2 separate regions of the Homo sapiens genome follow, and region 2 is linked to region 1. Evidence: fine-mapped expression QTL. A gene starts in region 1. The other region holds a variant in brackets. All regions are shown on one strand. Distances are from middle to middle. Region 1 holds the start of PDCD7 (programmed cell death 7). Region 2 overlaps DPP8 (dipeptidyl peptidase 8).

What was found. PIP is the estimated chance that this variant, and not a neighbour inherited with it, causes the effect. A credible set is the group of variants that fine-mapping cannot tell apart.
Region 2: its variant is the best candidate, but not a certain one, in a credible set for the expression of PDCD7 in tibial artery (GTEx, PIP 0.75).

What each region holds. Positions count from the first base shown.
Region 1 is chr15:65,126,315-65,143,466 of GRCh38, forward strand. It overlaps PDCD7 (programmed cell death 7), which reads right to left and starts at 7,494. Exons shown (of 5, transcript NM_005707.2): 1 at 6,598-7,494; 2 at 2,718-2,856. The coding sequence starts at 7,467. RefSeq lists silencers at 6,720-7,119, 7,180-7,389 and an enhancer at 7,680-7,779.
Region 2 is chr15:65,468,858-65,476,857 of GRCh38, forward strand. It overlaps DPP8 (dipeptidyl peptidase 8), which reads right to left. Exons shown (of 20, transcript NM_130434.5): 12 at 5,352-5,431. Among named protein-coding and RNA genes, the nearest start is that of DPP8, 45 kb to the right of the region's middle. The variant G/A (reference allele first, on the strand shown) is at 3,130.

The DNA.
Region 1 (17,152 bases):
AATCTCCTTAAGGTCATTCTGACTCATGGCTACATGCTAATGAACTCTTATCCAGGATGTACCACACACACCTCAAACTCGACAGGTCCCCAACTGAACTTGTCAACCCTAAACCTGTTCCTCCTCCCTTGTTTTCCTTCTTAATTAGAATGGTATCGGCCAGGCACAGTGGCTCACACCCTTAATCCTAGAACTTTGGGAGGCCAAGATGGGAGAATCGCTTGAGCCCAGGAGTTCGAGACCAGCTTGGGCAACATGGCGAAACTCTATCTCTACAAAAAATTTAAAAATTAGCCAGGTGTGGTGGTGTGCACCTGTAGTCTCTACTACTCAGGAGGCTGAGGTGGGAGGATCGCTCCTGCCTGGGAGTATAAGGCTGCAGTGAATTATGATTGCACCACTGCACTTCGGCTTGGGCGACAGTGCAAGACCCTGTCTTTTAAAAAAAAAAAAAGCAAAAAAAAAAAGCTATCTTCACTTATTCAGTAGATGAGGCTAGAATCTGGAAGACATTTCATTGTTTTTCCCTTTAGTTCCTGTACTCTGAGTTCCTTAAATTATTTATTTATATGTACATGGGTATATACACATATACCTTTATTCATTATCTCTCAATTCTTTGACTTGAGAATTATTCACTAATAATTCTGAATTACTCAATTATTCACTATCACTTGAATTACTCATTACCTCTCAATTCTCCTACACACTGACGTCACTCAGCTTATGCTTCCATACTACCCGTGCCCAATAGCCTTACCCATCTCTCTGCCCTTCTCTCTCTCTCCTGGATGCTCCAAAACTTTCTCTGCTCTACTGGCACTGATCTTTGCCATCATTTCACTTAAAAACTTTCAGCGGGGCCAGGCGTGGTGGCTCACGCCTGTAATCCCAGCACTTTGGGAGGCCGAGGCAGGTGGATCATGAGGTCAGGAGATCGAGACCATCCTGGCTAACAAGGTGAAACCCCGTCTCTACTAAAAATACAAAAAATTAGCCGGGCGCGGTGGTGGGCGCCTGTAGTCCCAGCTACTCGGGAGGCTGAGGCAGGAGAATGGCGTGAACCCGGGAAGCGGAGCTTGCAGTGAGCCGAGATTGCGCCACTGCAGTCCGCAGTCCGGCCTGGGCGACAGAGCGAGACTCCGTCTCAAAAAAAAAAAAAAAAAAAAACTTTCAGCGGTTCCCCAAAGCTTTAAGTATAAGTGAGAACTCTAGCATAGCCCATAAGACAATTTGCAACGTGGTCCTGCTTAAACATCCAGCCTCATCATTCAGCACTTAGTTGGAGGTGCACACATCTTGAAGAGAGAAGTTAGCTGCTCATTTTAAATATGCATGCAACCAGCTGCTACTTACCAAATCATTTTACATTCAAGTCACTTAATGCCACAAAGTCTGTTTATTTCTATAGATAATGATTTTCCTAAAATTTCCTCCTCCTTTTGGACCAAAGTGAGGAAGATTAATATTGGGAAATGCTGGTAAATTCACTTGGCAGAAGTTTACTGAGCACTCACCTCATAGAGGATGTGAGGTGTGGGAATATTAAATAGCTCTCAGGTTTTGCCTTCTAGTGAAAAAGAGATGGGTAGACAAAGCAGATGCTAACTTCCCTCTGATTTACAAATGCCCTGAGAGTACCACAATGGAGGCATCTGTTTCTGAGGTCTGGATGTGAATTAGCCGCTCTGAAGGCTAGTATGCAAAAGCCAATCACTTAGCTAGCAAACGAGCCTGGGTGAATACAAAATGGTCATATTCCAACACAACTTTCTTAAGGGTCTAAAAGAATCCCAGTTTTCATTTACATTTTAAACAACACATGGGAAATCATTTGTTAGAGTGGCATTTGCTAATTTGTACACTCTCAAATATCTCTGGTGAATACCAAAGGCCTACAATCTACTAAATAAATCAGCATGTGGTCCAAAGCAGGTGCAAGTGAGAAGCAACAGGAGGTTACCTCAGCCCAGATCAGGGAAGGATGAAGGATGCTGCATGTGTATTTGGTTTTGAATAGTGAGATCTTAAAATGGCAAAGATGGGACTGAGGGCCCTCCAGATGAACAGAATGACAACAGCTAAGATCCAGACAGGCAAATGGAAAGCACAATTGGGTAACTTCTAGAAAGCCAGCATGGTTGAAACAAACTTCGGTGGAGAAGCTTGAACTGCCTGGCTATAGTGTCTGGTGCTTCCTCCAGAGGCAAGAAGAGACCAGTGACATGAAGGGAAGGTGGGGAAATCCACACAGTCTGCAATCCCTGCCCTGTCCAACCATTCATACCTCTTCAAATAGAAATAATTCAGGTTTGAAATGTATCTGAAGAAGCATGCCAAGTTTTCAACACTTTCTGGAGCAACAAGTAAGGGTGAAAAGCTTTCACTCTGGCACAAGGCAAAGGTGACTAGCCATGACAAGCCCACTCAGAAGAGTGTGGCCAGAAATGCCCAGGGTAGGAATGATAAGTCAAGGGGAAGACAGTGCAGTGGGTTCCCACACTTGCCTCTCTTTTCAATCTGGGCTACCACAGGCTAAACATCTTCTGAGGCTTCCTGCTTCAGAAGTTCTGACCTACTTGCTGACAAGCCCAGTTACCCGACAAGGTGAAAATCATGAAGTTTCAAGTATTTTTCCCTCAATAATATTTGGGGTGGGAGGAGCTAGAGTAAAGAAGGGGAAGGGAACAAGGAAAGAAATGCAAAGCCACAGTTACCTTTCCTCGCTGCAGCCTCTTTCCTCAGTTTCCTCAATTTCTCCAAAGCCCGTAGAATGTCCACCATTCTTTTGGTATCTGCTTGTTTTTTCCTCACTTCAGATAGTACGCCATCAGCGGCTGCTTTGAGTTCCTGCTCCTGGAAGAGAAACAAAGCCCATGAGACCTCGTATTAGGAACAAACTTACAGCAGAGAATAGCTGCCCAGTGGTTAGATTTTAAAGGATCAGACAGTCTCCAGGTTAAGAGAGACTCTATTGAATCTCCATCCCAATTTCTTAGGCCTTGCACAACTCCCCTCTAGCTAAGAGGTTATCCCCCTCCACTGATGGTACAACCTTCATCTTAAAGGAGAACCTCTCCTCTCTGTATCTTCCACATAGCACTGGTTTTGTTTCTTCCTCAGTGTTTCTCAAAGTGTAGTGCAGAGATCAGGTGTCCAACTTACCTTGTTAAGCTGAGACTTGTTAAAAATGCAGATTCCCTAGACCTGAAGATTCAGATTCCCAGGAAGGATAAGGAATGTGGCTGGAAAGGCTGAGACCTCTACAAAGGTCTCTTAGTGACAACCTATGTTTGTGTTCCACTGCTCTAAAGTCCCAAGGATCTCTTCCACATGACAGCCTTTCAAATACCAAAGATTGCTGTCCTACTCTTGACTTAGTTCACATATAGACTAAATAACCCCAGTTCCTCAAGCCACTCCTCATAAGACTCTGTCACCAATATCCTCACCATGGAAGCTGGGCATAATGGCATGTGTCCCTAGCTATTCCTACTCAGGAGGCTAAGGCGAGAGGATCACTTTAAGACCAGGAGTTCAAACCTACAGGCTATGACAAACCCGCTGCACTCCAGCCTGGGCAACAGAGTGAAACTTTGTATTTTTTTTTTTTTTTTTTTTTTTTTTGAGACAGGGTCTCATTCTGTTGCCCAGGCTGGAGTGTAGTGGTGTGATCACAGCATCACCATGCCCAGTTAATTGTGTTTTTTGTAGAGACGAGGTTTCTCCATGTTGCCCAGGCTGGTCTGGAACTCCTGGGCTCAAGTAATCTGCCTGCCTCAGCCTCCCAAAATGCTGGGATTACAGGAGTGAGCCACTTCGCACCCGCCCCCAACCCTCTTTTTTTTTTTTTTTTTTTTTTTGAGATGGAGTCTCGCTGTTGTCCAGGCTGGAGGGCAATGGCGCGATCTCGGCTTACTGCAACCTCCGCCTCCTGGGTTCAAGCGATTCCCTGCTTCAGCCTCCCAATTAGCTGGGTTTACAGGCTCCTGCCACCATGCCCAGCTAATTTTTTGTATTTTTAGTAGGGACAGGGTTTCACCACGTTGGCCAGGCTGGTCCCGAACTCCTGACCTCAGGTGATCCGCCCGCCTTGGCCTCTCAAAGTGTTGGGATTACAGGCATGACCACGGCGCCCAGCCCCAACCCTGTCTCCTTAAAACAATAAAATAAATAAAATAAAAAGTTCACCATGGGTGGTGGAGAGAATCCTCTTGCCTAAAGTGCTCTCCCCCATCTGTCAAATAAGTGCCTGTAATTCCACCACTACAGCTACAGCCAACACCAAGCTGTTTCACTTCTCCATTTGGATTACTCTGTTTCCCTGGAACTGCACCTATTACCTTCACCTGGGTGACTTTTCCTTTAAGACTCAGCTTATAGCCAGGAGTGGTGGTGTGCACCTGTAATCCCAGCTACTCTGGAGGCTAAGGCAGGAGAATCGCTTGAACCTGGGAGGCAGAGGTTGCAGCGAGCCAAGACGGCATCACTGCACTTCAGTCCGGGCAACAGTGCGAGACTCTGTCTCAGAAAAAAAAAAAAAGACTCAGCTTACGTGTCATTGTATCATTTGGGAAGCATTCCCTCAGTAAATCAGATGTTCCTTCTTTGGGCTTTTACAGCACCTATAGTTGAATTCCTAACACACACCACGCTATACTGACATGATCTCCCACAGATCTCTAAGCCAGGGGTCAACAAACCCCAGGCCACGGATGGTAACCAGTCCATGGCCTGTTAGGAACCAGATCACACAGCAAAAGATGAGGCAGGCGAGCAAGTGAAGCTTCATCTCCATTTACAGCCACTCCCCCATTGCTTGCATTACCACCTGAGCTCCGCCTCCTGTCAGATCAGCAACAGCAGCATTACATTCTCATAGGAGCACAAAGAAGTGAACTGCGCATGGAAGGGATCTAGGTTGTGGGCTCCTTATGAGAATCTAAAGCCTGATGATTTGTCACTGTCTCCTATCACCCCCAGATGGGACTGTCTAGTTGCAGGAAAACAATCTCAGGGCTCTCACTGTTTCCACATTATGGTGAGTTGTATAATTATTTCATTATGTATTATAATGTAATAATAATAGAAATAATGAGGAAGAGGAAAGGGAACCCCAGAGGCAATCAAAGGTAATGAAAATGCCTTAGACGGCCAGGTGCAGTGGCTCACGCCTGTAATCCCAGCACTTTGGCAGGCTGAGGCGGGTGGATCACCTGAGGTCAGGAGTTCGAGACCAGTCTGACCAACATGGAGAAACCCTGTCTCTACTAAAAATACAAAATTAGCTGGGGTGTAGTGGTGCATGCCTGTAATCCCTGCTACTCGGGAGGCTGAGGCAGGAGAATCGCTTGAACCCGGGAGGTGGAGGTTGTGGTGAACCAAGATCATGCCATTGCACTCCAGCCTGGGCAACAAGAGCGAAACTCCATCTCAAAAAAAGAAAGAAAGAAAATGCCTTAGAAAACCATCTGAACAATTTCCAGTTTTACCCTGGCCCTGCTTAAAGAGTCTGAGATCAATACGCTTTGGAATTAGACAACTTGGGATCAAATATGGGAAACTGCCACAAACTCGTTGTGTGACTGTTGGCAAGTTAACCTCTCTATGCAACTTCCTAACCTGTAAAATTAGCATAATACTTCCTACTTCTCAAGGCTGTTATAAAGATTCAAAATCTGGTATATGTAATGACCTTAGCACACCTCTCTCTATATATACACAGATACATACATATATATACACACATACACATACATACATATATATACACATACATATATGTATGTGTATATATATGTATGTATGTGTATATATATATATATATATAGTAAATGCTCCGAAACACCATTGCTGAACCTGGGGATACATGGTTTAAAACTTGTAAACAAAAGAATCCTAGGGAAATCACTATTGCCCCATCAGCTAATTAGAGTATATATATTCCTTGAGGTAGGGTCCCCAAGTTCTCTATTTTTTTTTTTTTTGAGACGGAGTCTTGCTCTGTCGCCCAGGCTGGAATGCAGTGGTGCGATCTCGGCTCACTGCAACCTCCGCCTCCAGAGTAGCTGGGATTACAGGCGCCCGCCACCACGCATGGCTAATTTTTGTATTTTTAGTAGAGACGGGGTTTCACCATCTTGGCCAGGCTGGTCTTGAACTCCTGACCTCGTGATCCACCCGCCTCCGCCTCCCAAAGTGCTGGGATTACAGGCGTGGGCCACCGCGCCCGGCCTGTATTTTGTATTCTTAAAACCACCTAGGGCAGTACAAGACACAAGGAACTAGACACTTACTGGTTTTGAGAGTAAGTGGACAATGTTGGAGCAGGATAGGGGAGACCTGTCATTCGTGCAGTGCCACCGTGTAATCCTATACTTTGTGTTTACAGGATTTTACAGTGCACCTGGAACTTTTGTGTACCACACATCATTAACACAAAATTAACATGGTGGTATGAGCTGGGAAGGTTAGCTATCGCTTCATTTTGCGCGTAAAACAGAGGCTTAGCCCTGGGAAATGGAAGTTTAAAGCCTCCTGCTGCTCCAGGTTCCAACCACCACCACTCCTACCCCCATGAGCGGCCGCTGCTCTCACCCGCTTCTTCTCCTCCACCTCCTGCACACACTTCACCCTCCAGCGGTCAATCTCCTGCTCGCGTTCCACTGCCCGCGCGGCCTCTGCCTCCCGCTCGGCCTCGCGTTCCCGGGCCCTCTCGCGAAGCCGCAGCCGGCGGCGCCGGACCCTCTCCAGCCTCCTCCGCGCCTCGCCCACATAGGCAGCCTGGGTCAACGGCTGTAGCCGCTCGGCCAGTTCCGCGCGCAGCGGCGCGGTCTGGGAGTACAGCAGGACCCAGGCCGCGCCGTCGGCTTCGGCCTCGCGCAGGGCCTGGCTCAGGCCGCGCAGCCGCCGCACCAGGCGCAGAGCCCGGAGCAATCGCGCGCGCACTTCGCCAAGGCTGGGCCCGGCATGCGTGCGCTGGGGCACCGGACAGCCTGCCCGCCGCGGGGTCCCGAACACCGCCTCCAGCCACTGCCGGTCGCGCAGGCGTTGGAGGGCCGCATCCCCGAGCACGTCGGCCGGCGGCGGCGGCGCCTCAGGCCACCGCGGGCTCCAGGGCGGCCCCGGGCCGGGAGGCGGTGGCCGCGGCCGCTCGCCGGCGTCGGTCCCCGGGAAGGGCCGACACTGGGGCGGCGGAGGAGGCAGCGGCGGTGGTGGCACCGGGTAGAAGGCGCCAGCGCCGCCTCCGCCGCGGGAGGCCTCCGCGGAGGCTCGGGGCTGCAGAGCCAGCGGAGGCTGAAGGAAGGGGGCGGAGGCCCCCGGAAAAGGGCCGGGCCGCTGGGGGAGAGGCGGCGGGAAAGCCGGGGAGGGCAGCGGCGGTGGCGGACAGCCGAAAGGAGCAGGAGGCGGCGGCTGCGGGGGCGGTGGGCCTGGGCGACCCTGGCCGAAGAATGGTGGCAGGGCCATGTTCACGACGGAGATGCTTTGAGAAGTGACAGGAATCTGAGTGGCTCCTCATGAGAACCTTCCGACGGAAGTGACGTCGTTACGACGCGCGACCCCTGTAGACTCGTCCCTCCGGAAGGCTCAGTGCATAAGTGGGCAGTCGTTCAACCTTCTGTCGTTCAGTTCATAAATACCGTTCTTATTGAGCATCCTAGGTGCAGAGCTACCCACTCCGCATACAGTGAGACTGAGAGATACAGAGCTTCTCTTCGTGGAACTATCTGCCTAGTATAACACACTAATCAATTAATCATGGTGAGTATCTTCGAGAAGTTGGAGAAGGTTATCCTAAGAAACTGCGGCTGCAGCTGAGATCTGGAAGATAAATAGTTAAATAGAAAAAGAGAGGGAAGCACAGTGCAGATGAGAACATGTGCAAAGGCCCTAGTAAATAGGAGTGTGACCAACTACCCATTTTCTTAGAAAAATGAATTATTTTTACTTTTCTCCTTTCACCCCACCTCCTATTTAGCTCTTTAGGAATGCAATTATAGGGTGGGTGCTGTGGCTCACGTCTGTAATCCCAGCACTTTGGGAGGCCGAGGCAGGCGAGATCGGCCTGTAGTCCCAGCCATTGGGGAGGCTGAGGTGGGAGGATCACCTGAGCCCTGGGAGGTAAAGACTGCAATGAGCCACGATAACGCCACTGCACTCCACCCTGGGCGACAGAATGACACCTGTCAAAAAAAAAAATCCAATTAACCTTTACCTTCTCTCCACCAGACACTCTCTACACTGTAAGCTTATCTAATTATGTGTTCGCTTATTAGTTCCAAGGACCGAAGCTTAAACCAGGGACCTCTGGAACTTTCCCATACCAGGGGATTGCCTGGGGACAACTGTCAATTTACAACCTAGCTCCCCGCTACCCCCCACCCCCCCTCCGCCTTCGCCCCAGCCTCCATGGCGCCAACCAGATCACTGATGGATACATAGGAGCAAGTCCCATAGACCCAGCACCTCCTTGGTCCCTCCCCACCCCTTGCATGCCATCCAGGTCAACCAAGTCCCGTGCACCCCCCACTTTTTTTGAGACAGAGTCCCTCTGTCACCCAGGCTGGAGTGCAATGACGCACTCTCCACTCACTGCAACCACTGCATCCCAGGTTCCAGTTATTCTTGGTGCCTCAGCCTCCCTAGTCAGTTGCTGGGATTATAGACCCCTGCTGCCACGCCTGGCTAATTTTTGTGTTTTTAGTAGAGAGGGGGTTTCACAATGCTGGCTAGGCTGGTCGTAAACTCCTTACATCAGGTGATCCGTCCACCTTGGCCTCCCAAAGTGCTGGGGTTACAGGTGTGAGCCACCACACCTGGCCACTTTCTTTCTTTTTTTTTTTTTATGAGACAGAGTCTCCCTGTGTCGCCCAGGCTGGAGTGCAGTGGCGTGATCTTGGCTCATTGTAAGCTCTGCCTCCTGGGTTCATGCCATTCTTCTGCCTCAGCCTCCCGAGTAGCTGGGATTACAGGTGCCCACCACCATGCCTGGCTAATTTTTTTGTATTTTTAGTGGAGATGGGGTTTCACCATGTTAGCCAGGATGGTCTCGATCTCCTGACCTCATGATCCGCCTGCCTTGGATCATGTTGGGATTACAGGCGTGAGCCACCGTGCCCGTGGCAGTCACTTTCTTTTTACCATTCTCTTACTTGTTATTTGAATTTGCAAGCTGCAGGGAACTGGACCTGCCTTAGGTTACAGGACTATGTCTAGTGGGAAGCCTGATAGAATGCCAGTTTTGGCCTGTAATCCCAGCACTTTGGGAGGCCGAGGCGGGTGGATTGCCTGAGCTCAGGAGTTCAAGGCCAGCCTGGGCAATATGGTGAATTCCTGTCTCTACTAAAACACAAAAATTAGCCAGGTGTGGTGGTGCGTGCCCGTAATCCCAGCTACTGGGGAGGCTGAGGCAGGAGAATTGCTTTAACCCAGGACGTGGAGGTTGCAGTGAGCCGAGATCACACCACTGAACTCCAGTCTGGGAGACAGAGCGAGACCTTGTCTCCAAAAAAAAAAAAGAATGCGAGTTATGGATGGAGCTCTGAGAGGAGTCTGGTGATCCTGGTGAAGTGAAGTCCTAATGTCTGGGGTCTCATATCTTATGAACAATGGGAAACTATTTTGTTGTTGTTGTTGTTGTTTTGAGACCAAGTCTCACTCTTGTTGCCCAGGCTGGAGTGCAATGGCGCGATCTCGGCTAACCACAACCGCCACCTCCCAGGTTCAAGCAATTCTCCTGCCTCAGACTCCTGAGTAGCTGGGATTACAGGCACACACCACCATGCCCGACTAATTTTGTATTTTTAATAGAGACGTGGTTTCTCCCTGTTGAGGTTGGTCTCGAACTCCTGATCTCAGGTGATCTGCCTGCCTCAGCCTCCCAAAGTGCTGGGATTACAGGCGTGAGCCACTGTGACCAGTGGGAAACTATTGGTTTTAAACAAGAGGTAAAGAGAAGCCTGTGCCACCTGATTAGATTTTTAAAATTAAACTATTTTGAGACAATTGTAGATTCATATGGAATATGAGAAGTAGTAATACAGGGAGATTCTGTGTACCCTTTACCCAGTTTCCCCTAAGGGTAACATCTTGTAAAACTGTAGTACAGTATTGTCAGAGGCATTTGAACCAGAGTGACTCCATCTTGAGTGAGGGCTAGGAAAAGTGAAGCTGGGACTTGCTTGGCTGCATTCCCAGGAAGTTAGGTATTCCTAGCCTCTAGATGTTTATGGTTAAGGGAACAGACTAATAACATTTACTAAACAGACCCGTACTTAGGAGTGTCCTGAGATCCCGATATTTTGAGAATAGAAGCATTCCTAATTTTGCTTTAAAGATAATAATGTTGATTCTTGTAAAATATAGTAATTTAAAAAATTAATCCTTTATCACAAACCCTTGTGGCAGAGCACATCTCCCCATGATCTTTTTTTATCCTATATATAAGCAAGCATTCTACCTAGGGTGGACACGTTTCTCCTCTTACTTTCAGGAACGCCCTACTGTCTATGGAGTAGATATTCTTTCACCACTTTACTTTCTTAATAAACTTGCTTTTGCTTTGCACTGTGGACTTGCCCTGAAATCTTTCTTGCACAAGATCCAAGGACCCTCTGTATTAGTCTGTTTTCATGCTGCTAATAAAGACATACCTGAGACTGGGTAATTTATACAGGAAAAAGGTTTAATGGATTTACAGTTCCACATGGCTAGGGAGGCCTCACAATCATTTGGAATGCTGGGATTACAGGCGTGAGCCAGTGCACCCGGCCCCAGACCTCAATTCTTGACTTTTGCGCACCCGCAGGCTCAACACCATGTGGAAGCTGTGAAGGCTTGGGGCTTGCACCCTCTGAAGCCACAGCCCAAGCTGTACCTTGGCCCCTTTTAGTCACGACTGGAGTGGCTGGGACACAGGGCACCAAGTCCCTAGACTGCACACAGCAGCGGGACCCTGGGCCTGGGTCATGAAACCATTTTTTCCTCCTAGGCCTCTGGGCCTGTGTTGGGAGGGGCTGCCGCAAAGATCTCTGACATGCCCTGGAGACATTTTCCCTATTGTCTTGGAGATTAACATTCAACTCCTCGTTACTTATGCAAATTTCTGCAGCTGGCTTGAATTTCTCCTCCGAAAATGGGATTTTCTTTTCTATGGCATTGTCAGGCTGCACATTTTTTGAACTTTTATGTTCTATTTCCCTTTTAAAACTTGATGCCTTTAACAGCACCCAAGTCACTTATTGAATGCTTTGCTGCTTAAAAATTTCTTCTGCCAGATACCCTAAGTCATCTCTCCTAAGTTCAAAGTTCCACAAATCTCTAAGGCAGAAGCAAAATGCTGCCAGTCTCTTTGCTAAAACATAACAAGAGTCCCCCTTGCACCAGTTCCTAATGAGTTTCTCATCTCCATCTGAGACCACCTCAGCCTGGATTTCATTGTCCATATCATTATCAGCATTTTGGTCAAAGCCGTTCAACAAGTCTCTAGGGAGTTCCAAACTTTCCCACATTTTCCTGTCTTCTGAGCCCTCTAAACTGTTAACCTCTGCCTGTTACCCAGTTTCAAAGTTGCTTCTACATTTTTGGGTATCTTTTAAACAGTGCCCCACTCTACGGGTACCAATTTACTGTATTAGTCTGTTTCCACGCTGCTGATAAAGACATATTCAAGACTGGGCAATTTACAAAAGAAAGTGGTTTAATGGACTTACAGTTCCACATGGCTGAGGAGGCCTCACAATCATGGCGGAAGGCAAGGAGGAGCAAGTCACATCTTACATGGATGGCAGCAGGCAGAAAGAGAGCTTGTGGAGGGAAACTCCTCTTTATAAAACTATCATATCTCATAAGACTTATTCACTACCATGAGAACAGTATGGGGGGAACCACCCCCATGATTCAGTTATTTCCCATTGGGTCCCTCCCACAACACATGGGAATTACGGGAGTACAATTCAAGATGAGATTTGGGTGGGGACACAGAGCCAAATCATATCACCCTCTCTTGGGATCTGGATTGGGACCCCTTTCCAGTAACAATATTGAAACTGTAAACCCCCCAAATTTGAGACAGGTCTCAGTTAATTTAGAAAGTTTATTTTGCTGGCCAGGTGTGGTGGCTGTAATCCCAGCACTTTGGGAGGCTGAAGCAGGTGGATCATGAGGTCAGGAGTTTGAGACCACCCTGGCCAACATGGTGAAACCTCATCTCTACTAAAAAAAAAAAAAAAAAAAAAATACAAAAATTAGCCGGCTGTGGTTGCATACACCTGCAATCCCAGCTACTCAGGAGGCTGAGGCAGGAAAATTGCTTGAACCCGGGAGGTGGATGTTGTAGTGAGCCAAGATCACACCACTGCACTCCAGCCTGGGCAACAGAGCAAGACTCCTCTCAGGGAGGGAAAAAAAAAAAAAAGGTTGAGGACGCACCTGTGACACAGCCTCAGGAAGTCCTGATGACGTGTCCAAGGCGGTCAGGGCACAGCTTGCTTTTATACATTTAGGGAGACATGAGACATCAGTTAGTATTTGTAAGTACATTGGTTCAGTCTGGAAAGGTGGGACAACTTGAAGCAAAGGCAGGAAGACTTGAAGCGGGGAGGGCGCTTCCAGGTCACAGGTGATACACAAATGGTTACATTCTGTTGAATTTCTGATTAGCCTTTCCAAAGGAGGCAAATCAGATGTGCATCTATCTCAGTGAGCAGATAATTGACTTTGAATAGAATGGAGGCAGGTTTGCCCTAAGCAGTTTCCAGCCTGAGTTTTCCTTAGTGATCTTAGGGGCCCAAGATATTTTCCTGTCATAAAACCATCCCTAAAAAAACTTTTTGTGGAGTTTAGGGAAAAGGAGTGGGGCTGGCAGGACTGAGGGAGAGCAAAAAGGAAAGGCAGATAAGCTACAAGTCTGCCTTTCTTCATGGTTCAGGACACATAGCCCTCCTGCGCTCATATCTCACAATCTTCCTGTGCCCAGCTATCACCAGACCCTTGGCTTATAGAAAAATGCAAGTTAGCTAACTGCAACCTTGGTTGCAGTAATCAGTACTGCACAAAGCCCTCTTCAGCACACAGCACAAGCACCATTCTATAAAATCCCCAGCAAGCCTTTGTCTCCTCACAGTTAGCTCCTCTCTTGCTAACCAGCCCCTTGCACTCTTGCAATGTATTTTCATACTTTCTTTCATAAATCTGCCTTTCTTTACCTACAACTGTCTTGGTAAATTCTTCTTACTGCCCACACTGATACTGGCCTCAGATAGTCACTGCTCACCTGCAACGGTTTATAAAATCAATAGGAGGCAAAATAAAATCTAAGTAGGCTTATAGCACAATCAACAACAATCATTAAGTCGGCTTGCCTTCTGTCCCAGTTCCTTGTAGTTGGTCACTACTCTTACTACCCAAGGATAACTAGCTCTTGTCCTCACAAAAGTCTTTTTTATTTTCCTGTTCTATAGATAAAATCTAAGACATTGTTAGATATATTTTTCCATTGAGCATCTCCTTTAGATTCTATATACCAACAAAATTACCATGCCAGCTAGTCCGAAGGACCCAGCAAAAAGCTGACTAATGAAAGAAAAATTTCCACATCCTGATTTTAACCCCTGTATTAGTTCATTTTCTTTTTTCTTTTTTTTTTTTTGAGATGGAATTTCACTCTCGTTGCCCAGGCTGGAGTGCAATGGTGTAGTCTTGGCTCACTGCAACTTCTGCCTCCCAGGTTCAAGCAATTCTCCTGCCTCAGCCTCCCAAGTAGCTGGGATTACATGCGCCCGCCAACCATGTGCGACTAATTTTTCTATTTTTAGTAAAGATGGGGTTTCACCATGTTGGCCAGGCTGGTTGCAAACTCCTGACCTCAGGTGATCACCCACCTCGGCCTCCCAAAGTGCTGGGATTACAGGCACGAACCACTGCCCCTGGCCTATTAGTTCATTTTCACACTGCTATAAAGAACTACTGGAGACTGGGTAACTTATAAAGAGGTTTAATTGACTCACAGTTCTGCATGACTGGGGAGGCCTCAGGAAACTTATAATCATGGCAGAAGGCAAAAGAGAAGCAAGCACCTTCTTCACAAGGTGGCAGGAGAGAGGGTGAGCAAGGAGGGGAACTGCCAAACACTTTTAAACCACCAAATCTCGTGAGAATTCACTCTCAGAACAGCATGCAGGAAACTGCCCCCATGATCCAATCACCTCTTACCAGGTTCCTCTCTTGACATGTGGGGTCTTATAATTCAAGATGAGATTTGGATGGAGACAGAGCAAAACCATATCATCCACTTTACCCAACCAATCGATGACCCCAAATTTTCTAGTCCCTCACCCTCCACAACCCCCTTAAAAATCCTTGCCCAGAACCCTATGAGGAAACAGATTTCAAGCTTGAGAATTCCTCCTGCTTCCTTGTTTGGCATCTTGAGATTATTAAACTCTTCACTACATGAGCAAAGTTGTGTGTTGCAAATTATTTTTAATTTTTAAAAAAGGAAAAAAATTAAACTCTCCAGTACAAACCCAGTTGTCAGTGTATGTCAGATGTCTATTGCTGTGTAGCTGGCATACAAACCTGGCAGTCCTATTACATTATCAAAGTCAGGATATTGACATTGATACAAAACATGTCCATCACTACCAGTATTCCTCATTTGCCCTTTTATAGCCACATTCAGTTCTCTTCCTTAACCCATCTTCTCCTTAGCCATGAATCTATCCTCTACTTTTATAATTTTTATTATTTTATTTTATTTTATTTTATTTTATTTTTGGAGACGGAGCCTTGCTTTGTCACCCAGGTTGGAGTACAGTGGTGTGATCTTGGCTCACTGCAAACTCTGCCTCCTGGGTTCATGCGATTCTCCTGTCTCAGCCTCCTGAGTAGCTGGGATTACAGGCATGCGCCACCACGCCAGGCTAATTTTGTATTTTTAGTAGAGATGGGGTTTTACCGTGTTGATCAGGCTGGTCTCCAAATACTGACCTCAGGTGATCCCCCTGCCTTGGCCTCACAAAATGCTGGGATTACAGGTGTGAGCCACTGCGCCCGGCCCCCGCCTTAGCTTCTAGGGTAGGTAGGACTGCAGGCAGACACCACCATACCCTGCTAATTTTTAAAAATTTTGGTAGAGATGGGGGTCTTGCCCAGGCTGATCTCAAACTCCTGGCCTCAAGCTATTCTCCCACCTTTCCCTCCCAAAGGCCAGGAATATAGGCATGAGCTACTGCACCTGGCCAGGGTTTTTCTTTTGGCATAGCAAAAGTTCTTAATTTTGATGAAGTCCAATTTATCAGTTTTCCCTTTCTGGATTGTGCTTTTGGTGTCAAGTCCAAGAACTCGATGCTTATCCTTAGATCCTGAAGATTTTCTCCTGTGTTTTTTTCTAAGTTTTGTAGGTCTACTTTTTTTTTCTTTTTTGAGACAGTCTTGCTGTGTCTCCCAGGCTGGAGTGCAGTGGTGCGATCTTGACTCACTGCAACCTTCACCTCCCAGGTTCAAGCGATTCTCCTGCCTCAGCCTCCTGAGTAGCTGGGACTTCAGGCACCTGCCACCACACCTGCCTAATTTTTTTTTTTTTTTTTTTTTTTTTTTGAGACAGAGTCTTGCTCTGTCTCCCAGGCTGGAGTGCAGTGGCACAATCTTGGCTCACTGCAACCTCCGCCTCCTGGGTTCAAGCAATTCTCCTGTCTCAGCCTCCTGAGTAGCTGGGACTACAGGCGCCCTCCACCACGCCCGGCTAATTTTTGTATTTTTAGTAGAGACGGGGTTTCACCATATCGGTCAGGCTGGTCTCGAACTCCTGACCACAGGTGATCCGCCCGCCTCGGCCTCCCAAAGTGCTGGGATTAGGCATGAGCCACCACGCCTGGCCTCTAATTTTTGTATTTTTAGTAGAGGTGGGGTTTCACCATGTTGGCCAGGCTGGTCTGCAACTCCTGACCTCAAATGACCCACCCACCTCGGCCTCCCAAAGTGCTGGGATTACACGTATGAGCCACCGCGCCCGGCCACTTTTGTTTTGAGACAGTTTCGCTCTTGTTGTCCAGGCTGGAGTGCAATGGAGCGATCTCTGCTCACTGCAACCTCTGCCTCCCGGGTTCAAGCGATTCTGTCTCAGCCTCCCGAGTAGCTGGGATTACAGGCACATGCCACCATGCCCGGCTAATTTTTGTATTTTTAGTAGAGATGGGGTTTCATCATATTGGTCAGGCTGGTCTCGAGCTCCCGACCTCAGGTGATCCGCCTGCCTCGGCCTCCCAAAGTGCTGGGATTACAGGCATGAACCACCATGCCCGGCCTTTTTAAGACTGGGTCTGGCTCTGTCGCCCAGGCGCCATCTTGGCTTACTGCAGCCTCTGCCTCCCTGACTCAAGAGATTCTCAGGCCTCAGCCTCCCGAGTAGAGTAACTGGGATTACAGGCGTGCACCATCACACCTGGCTAATTTTTGTATTTTTTAGTAGAGACGGGGTTTCACCATGTTGGTCAGGCAGGTCTCGAACTCCTGGCCTCAAGTGATCCACCTGCCTCGGCCTCCCAATGTGCTAGGATTACAGGCACATGCCACCGCACCAGGCCATTTGTAGGTTTACATTGAAGTCTGTCATCCTTTTTTTTTTTTTTTTTTTTTTTTTAAATAAGAGGCCAGGTCTCACTATGTTGCCCAGGCTGGACTTGAATTCCTGGGCTCAAGGGACCTTCTTGCTTCAGCCTCTGAAGCAGGCAGGACTACAGGCATTTGACACCATGCCTGGCTTACGATCCATCTTCAGTTAGGCTCTTTTTTCTTATGGATGTCTAATTGCTGCAACATCACACTTAGATCTTCACTTTTCTGAGCACTGTTACTCTGAGCAAAGTAATTAGATGATGGACATGCCCCATTTCATATTTTTGTCATTTATTAAGCACTTTCTATGACAAGGAGCTGAAGACGGCAAGGTGAGTTGTTTCCTTATCTTCAAGGAGGATGACCTCTTGGGTCATACCAAGAAGAACCAGAGAGCCTGGCCCCACTCCCCAAGGGACCGATCAAACTTCTCAGAAACTTACTGTGATTCTACGTAATATTTATTTATTTATTTATTTACTTATTTATTTTTTTGAGACAGAGTTTCACTCTTGTTGCCCAGGCTGGAATGCAATGG
Region 2 (8,000 bases), 340 kb after region 1:
TGTAACTACTTAACATCCAAGGAAGTATCATAATTGTGTGGGGGGCTTGTTAAACAGATTACTAAGCCCCACCACCAGAGTTTGATTCAGGATGTCAGAGGTGGGCCTAAGAATGTGCATTTCTTTTTGCTTTTTGAGACCGAGTTTCGCTCTCGTTGCCCAGGCTGGAGTGCAGTGGCGCGATCTCGGCTCACTGCAACCTCCGTCTCCCAGGTTCAAGCGATTCTCCTGCCTCAGCCTCCTGAGTAGCTGGGATTACAGGCATGTACCACCACGCCTGGCTAATTTTGTATTTTGAGTAGAGACGGGGTTTCACCATGTTGGCCAGGCTGGTCTCGAACTCCTGACCTCAGATGATCCGCCTGCCTCGGCCTCCCAAAGTGCTGGGATTACAGGCATGAGCCACTGCGCCCAGCCAAGAATGTACACTTCTAACAAGTTCCCAGGTGATGCTGACACTTTGCTGTTGGTCCAGCACTTTGAGAACCACCCTTAACAATAAAAAGCTCATAGGCAGCTGGGCGCAGTGGTCCAGGCCTGTAATCCCAAAACTTTGGGAGGTGGAGGCGGCAGGTCACTTGAGGTCAAGAGTTTGAGACCAGCCTGGTCTCACGGTGAAACCCCATCTCTACTAAAAACACAAAAATTAGCTGGGCATGGTGGCATGCACCTGTAATCCCAGCTACTCAGGAGGCTGAGACAGGAGAATCGCTTGAACCTGGGAGGCAGAAGTTGCAGTGAGCCAAGATCATGCCATTGCACTCTAGCCTGGGCAACAAAAGCAAAACTCCGTCTCAAAAAAAAAAAAAAAAAAAAAAAATTACAAAAATTAGCCAAGTGTGGTAGTGGATGCCCATAATCCCAGCTACTCGGGAGGCTGAGGCATAAGAATCCCTTGAACTCAGGAGGCAGAGGTTGCAGTGGGCCGAGATCGTACCACTGCACTCCAGCCTGGGTGACAGAGCGAGACTCCATCTCAAAAAAGAAAAAGAAGCTCATAGGCTTAAAAGTCTTAAAGCTTTACCCAATTACTGCCATTAGAAATCTTTGGGTAGATGGCCAGGTGTGGTGGCTCACACCTGTAATCCCAGCACTTTGGGAGGCCAAAGCAAGAGGATTGCCTGACGTCAGGAGTTCGAGACCAGCTTGGCCAACATGGCAAAACCCCATCTCTGTTAAAAACACAAAAATTAGCTGGGCATGGTGATGGGCACCTGTAATACCAGCGACTCGAGACTTAAGCAGGAGAATCACTTGAACCTAGGAGGCGGAGGTTGCAATGAGCTGAGATCGCACTACTGCACTCCAGCCTGTGCAACAGAGTGAGACTCTTGTCTCAAAAAAAAAAAAAAAAAAAAAAAAAGAAAGAAAAAAGAAAACAACTTTGGGTGGGAACAGTCACTTGTAAAAGTAGAGAAGGAAAAAGGTAACTTAAGTCAAAAAACAAATCAAGAATAGAGGGAAAGGGCTGGGCATGGTGGCTCACGCCTGTAATCCCAGTACTTTGGGAGGCTGAGGTGGGCAGATCACGTGAGGTCAGGAGTTCTAGACCAGCCTGGCCAACATGGTGAAACCCCGTCTCTACTAAAAATACAAAAATTAGCCAGGCTTGGTGGCAGGTGCCTGTAATCCCAGCTAGTCAGGGGGCTGAGGCAGGAGAATTGCTTGAACCTGGGAGGCAGAGGTTACAGTGAGCCAACATCGCACCATTGCATTCTAGCCTAGGGGACAAGAATGAGACTTGTCTCAAAAAAAAAAAAAAAAAAGAATAGAGGAAAAGGCCAGGTGTGGTGGCTCACGCCTGAAATCCTAGCACTCTGGGAGGCCAAAGTGGGCAGATCACCTGAGGTCACGGGTTCAAGACCCTCCTGGCCAACATGGCAAAACCCTGTCTCTACTAAAAATACAAAAATTAGCTGGGCATGGTGGTGTATGCCTGTAATCCCAGCTACTTGGGAGGCTGAAACAGGAGAACTGCTTGAACCCAGGAGGCGGAAGTTGCAGTAAGCTGAGATCATGCCACTGTACTCCAACCTGGGTGACAGAGTGAGACTCTTATCTCAAAAAAAAAAAAAAAGAGGGAAAATAGAGAAGAGGGAAAGACAGACTAACGTATCACAAGTAAACATGACATGAAAGAAAACTGATAAACGTAGTGGCAAGTAGTAGATGTTTAGGTGACTCAAATAAGGATCAGATGTATGCAATTACAATTATTGGGGTTCCCTCAGCATTATGTAATGACTCATCCTTCAATCATCACATAGCACGAAATTTACATCAGTGTAGTTTTCTGTTTTCAGAACCTAGAATTCCACAATAAGATTTTTTTCTCAGGTGACAGTAATATCCAAGGTACTTCAACAGAAAAAAATATTTGGAAACAAAAATAAAACAGAAAAAAATTATTTGGATATATAACAAGAAGGCCACTTGAGGATCTCAGTGGAAATGAGACCTTAAAGGTCAGTCTTGATACCCTGAAGTTTTTGTTGTTGCTGTTGTTTTGAGGCGGGTATCATTCTGACACCCAGGCTATAGCATAGCATTGTGATCACAGCTCAATGCAGCCTCAACCTCCCGGGCTAAAGCGATCCTCCCACCTCAGCCTCCTTAGTTACTGGGACTATAGGCATGCACCACCATAACCAGCCTATTTTTTTTTTTTTTTTTTGGTAGAGATGGAGTCTCCCTATGTTACCCAGGCTGACCTCAAACTCCTGGGCTAAAGCAATCCTCTTGTCTTGGCCTCCCAAAGTGCTGCAATTACAGGTATGCCCCACCACACCTGCCTAATTTAAAATTTTTTTTGCAGAGACGGAGTCTCACTATGTTGTCCAGGCTGGTATCTAATTCCTGGGCACAAGTGATCCCTCGACACTGGCCTCCCAAAGTGTTGGGACTACAAGTTTGAGCTACCATGCCCAGCAGATACTCTAAAGTTTTTACTAACAAAAACAAACCTGGGATCTGGATCTTCATTATGTCTCCTTAATCACTTTAGAGACTACAAGTGATTTTTACAGTAGCCAGTAAACATAATCCTTCAATAAATCTTCCTGTCAATTTGAGGAAACCACATTTAGTTAGGCCTTCACTAAATCCTGGCAGCATACCTCAACTATATGT[G/A]TCACACACATACAGGATGGAGTTCCTAGAGATCTCATGAATGTGATCATCCAAGTGACAGCTGAAACAAATGCAAGGTACTTCAAAAACGCAATTTTTTTTTCTTTAAAGAATTCACTGAATTGGTACTGAGAATAAAACACAGGGTAGACTTCCTTCCTTTTCCCTATCAATCTAAGCTCTGTATAAATGCCCATCACTCTTTGCAGGTGGTGGATTAAAGTTTAAATTTGTGGGGCAAGATAAACACATGAATGAAAGACAAGTACTACTTCAGAAGAAGTAAATGCAATTTATTTATTTATTTATTTATTGGTTTTTTTTGAGCCAGAGTATCACTGTTTCAGCCAGGCTGTAGTGCAGTGATGTGATCATAATTCATTTGCAGCCTAGACTTCCTGCACTCAAGCGATTCTCCTGCCTCAGCCTTCCAACTAGCTGGGACTACAGGTGCGCATCACCATGCCCAGCTAATTTTTTTATTTTTTATTTTTGGCAGAGACAGGGTCTTATATGTTGCCCAAACTGTTACTGAACTCTTGGCCTCAAGCGATTCTCCAGCCTTCATCTCCCAAAGGGCTGGATTACAGATGTGAGCCACTGTGCCCAGCCAGTAAACGCAATTTATAATGTAGACACAAGTAGTCTATAATAGATTTTTAAGTTACTTTTCAAACCATATGCTAACTTACAACTTTTGCTAGGCTCTAAAACTATGAATATGCCCCTTTCTCATCAAGGAGCAATAATACATTTTAAAATGGTGGGCTTGGCCAGGCGTGGTGGTTCACACCTGTAACCTCAGCACTTCAGGAGGCCGAGACAGGTGGATTGCTTTAGCTCAGGAGTTTGAGACCAGCCTGGGCAACATGGCGGAATCCCGTCTACAAAAAATACAAAAATTAGCTGGGTGTGGTGGTGTGTGCCTGTAGTCTCAGCTACCTGGGAGGCTGAGGTGGGAGGAAGGCTTGAGCCCAGGAGGCAGAGGTTGTAGTGAGCCAAGATTGTGCCACTGCAATCCAGCCTAGGCGACAAAGTCAGACCCTGTCTCAAAAAAGAAAAGCAAATGGTGAGCAGGACGCAGTGGCTCACACCTGGGAGGTGGCAAGGTGGGAGGATCCTTCAAGCCTAGGAATTCAAGACCAGCATGGCCAACATGACGAAACCCTCTCTCCTAAAAATACAAAAATTAGCCGGGCATGGTGGTGTGTGCCTGTAATCCCAGCTACTCGGGAGGCTGAAGCAGGAGAATTGCTTGAACCCAGGAGGTGGAAGTTTCAGTAAGCCAAGATCATGCCACTGCACTCCAACCTGGGCGACAGAGTGAGACTCCATCTCCAAAAAAAAAAAAAAAGAAGAATAGAGGGAAAATAGAGAAGACAGACAGACTAACCTATCACAAGTAAACATGACATGAAAGAAAACTGATAAATGTAGGGGCAAGTAGTAGATAGTTAGGTGTAGTAGGTGTTTAGGTTTGAGACCAGCCCAGACAATATATATGAGACCCTGTCTCTACCAAAAATTTAAAAATTAGCTTGTCGTGGTGGCGTACACCTGTAGTCCCAGCTACTCCAGAGGCTGAAGTGGGAGGATCGTCTGAGCCTGGGAGGTTGAGACTGCAGTGAGCCATGACTGTGCCCTGCACTACAGCCAGGGTGACAGAGCAAGACATTGTCTCACAAAAAAGAAAAGAAAATAACCTTTGGTAATCAGAACACATCTATAAAAGGGCTATAAAATAAATGAGATTTATCATTTAAACTAAGATTATTTCTTTCCAACAACTTGAGTAATTTTAGGCCGTAACTTAATATTTTAAAAATACTGGGGTCGGCTGGGCGCAGTGGCTCACGCCTGTAATCCCAACACTTTGGGAGGCTGAGGAGGGCGAATCACAAGGTCAGGAGTTTGAGACCAGCCTGGCCAACATGGTGAAACCCCGTGTCTACTAAAGATACAAAAAAATTAGCCGGGCGTGGTGGCACATGCCTGTAATCCCAGCTACTTGGGAGGCAGAGGCAGGAGAACTGCTTGAACCCGGGAGGTGGAAGTTGTAGTGAGCCGAGATCACCCCATTGCACTCCAGCCCTAGGCGACAGAGCAAGACTCTGTCTCGGAAAAAAAAATACCGGGGTCATATTAAATTACATTACTCATTTTTAGCACTGCATTCACACAGTAATACTGACCAAACATATCAGTAGAATAAAATAACATACATTAGATCCATGCCGGCCAAGAACTTCCCATTCACCACTGGTAATTGCTATCTCCTCTTTGATAGGACACTTGAAATCACCTGAAGATAAATATAATTATAATTCAGTACATTATACCAGACTATAAGCAAATGAAACAATTAAGAACAGTACTCTAAGCTCTTTTTTCCAAAAAGTTATGTTTGGGGTAATAAAAATGTTTTGGAACTAGACAGAGATGATGGTTGCACAGCATTGTGAATGTACTAAATGCCACTGCATTGTTTGTTTATTTTTATTTTTCATTTTTTTGTAGACAGTCTCGCTCTGTTGCTGAGGCTGGAGTGCAGCGGCATGATCACAGCTCACTGCAGCCTTGACCACTTAGGCTCAAGCTTTCCTCCCACCTCAGCCTCCTGAGTAGCTAGAACTAGACACCACTAAACCCAGCAAATTATTATTTTGGTAGCAATGAGGTCTCACTATATTGCCCACGCTGGTCTTGAACTGCTGGCCTAAAGCCCCCTGGCCTTGGCCTCTCAAAGTGCTGGGATTACAGGCATGGGCCTGAATTGTTTATTTTTAAATGGTTAACTTAACGTTTTATGAATTTCACTTCAATAAAAAAAGTCTACAGTTAAAAAAAATCCAAGTTATGAGTCTTTACAATACTCTGGAATAATAATGGAATGATCTATTTAGGTAATGCAAAAACAGCAAAAGAGATTTTTTGGCAAAGCCAGAGGAAAACTCAAAAGCACCTGCATTCTTGAACCTTTGGTTAGACAAAGAAGTCTAATGGATTGACAAAGCATTTCTTTTCGTTGTTTTTTTTTCATAACTTGTTTCTGTTGATTTCTCTTTTTCTTTTTGTAAAACTTTCCCAAGACATTTTCAGATTTAAAAATAAATAAAGTCAGTGTTAAAGGTGTTGGTCAGCCTTCTTACTTGTACCCTTCTACCTCTGACACTGGGGTAAAGGAGGAAGTCCAGGGCAATGCAGTGATATTTCTGCCAGGATACTCCCCCTCCCCTAAACTCAGTAGTTAGTTGAGAGTATGACATTTACAGAGAGAGGCTAGAGAGACCCAAATACCTCTATTCCACCCCAGTGGTAGGTGGAAGTTGGGTCAGCTGCTGCCCCGAGCCAGCTTTATCTTCTGAGTGTGGGCTTTGGAGGAACAGGAGAACTGGCTCTTGGCCACTGTGAGGGGTACAGCTTTGCCACTCAAATATACCTTATTATGGCATTCAGGGAGCCAGGGTCCAGAGCTGCAGGGCTGGGGTCCCTGTCTCACTCCCACATAGGCCATCACATGACCTGCCATAAAGGCATTAAAACCAGCCCGGTGCAATCCATCCCCAGGCACTGAATTAGGACTGGCTTGACTCCCTGGCACTTCTGAGGTAGCCATATCAGCTATTTCAACAAGGCATTTCTTCTAGAAATGCAACAAACTACTTTAAAACTCACAAAAGAAAATGTTTAATACAATTGTTCTTCATTTGCCAAAAAATAACCCAGGTAAGTGTTTACCATAGCAAATGTCAACATGCCCCATTTGTTTTGTTTTTGTTTTTTTCCTGTTCTGCTCTGTCGCCCAGGCTACAGTGCAGCGGCACCATCACAGCTCACTGCAGCCTTTACCTCCCCAGACTCAGGTGATCCTCCCACCTCAGCCTCCCAAGTAGCTGGGACTACAGGCTCATGCCACCACACTTGGTTAATTTTTTTTTGTCTTTTTTGTAGAGATGGGGTTTTGCCATGTTGCCTAGGCTAGTCTCAACTCCTGGACTCAAACAATCTGCCTGCCTCAGCCTCCCAAAGTGTTGGGATTACAGGCGTGGGCCACCTCACCCAGCACCCATTTGTTTTTATGAGCTTCTGTCTTGATGAGGCTCTCTCAGCGGCCTAAGGAACAGCTTAAAAAGTGAAAATCATTTCTCTTTTCCTCACTGCTTATATCTATTGCTGTGGGGAGTGACAGCTGATGACAGGCCTAGGTGGTGAGGCTGTATTAGTGTCTTTCCTAGGGTTCCACGTAAGTTTAAAAAAATATTTTAAACTCGAAGAGCACAAAAAAATTAAAAAATCAATTTAGTACTTTAAATACTATAGACAGAAATTAAAATAAAATTTAATTTTTTTAAAACATAAAATTATATGTTAACATATAGATAACAAATACTAACTGTTTTACATTACAGCTCTTAAGAAAGCAAAGAGGAGGGAGAAGGAAATGAAGTAGATATGAAGGTAAAGGAGGATGACTTGGAGCAAGAAAGACTAAGAGGGCTATTATTAAAAAAGCAGAATATAACAACTATCATCCGAACGTAGACAAATTAAAACCCTGTGCACTGTTAGTGGGAATGTAAAATGGGGTAGCAGTAGCCACTACCGTTGGTGTTCCAATGGTGTAGCTCCTATGGAAAACAGTATGGTAGCCCCTCAAAAAACTGAAAATAGAATTACCATATGATCCAGAAATTCCACTTTTGAGTACATACCCAAAAGAATTGAAAGCAGGGACAGGAACAGATACTTGTACACCCACGTCCACAGCAGCATTATTCACAATAGCCAAAAGGTGGAACCAATCCCAGTGCCCATCAACAGATGAACAGATAAACAAAATGTGGTATATACATACAACGAAACCTTACTCA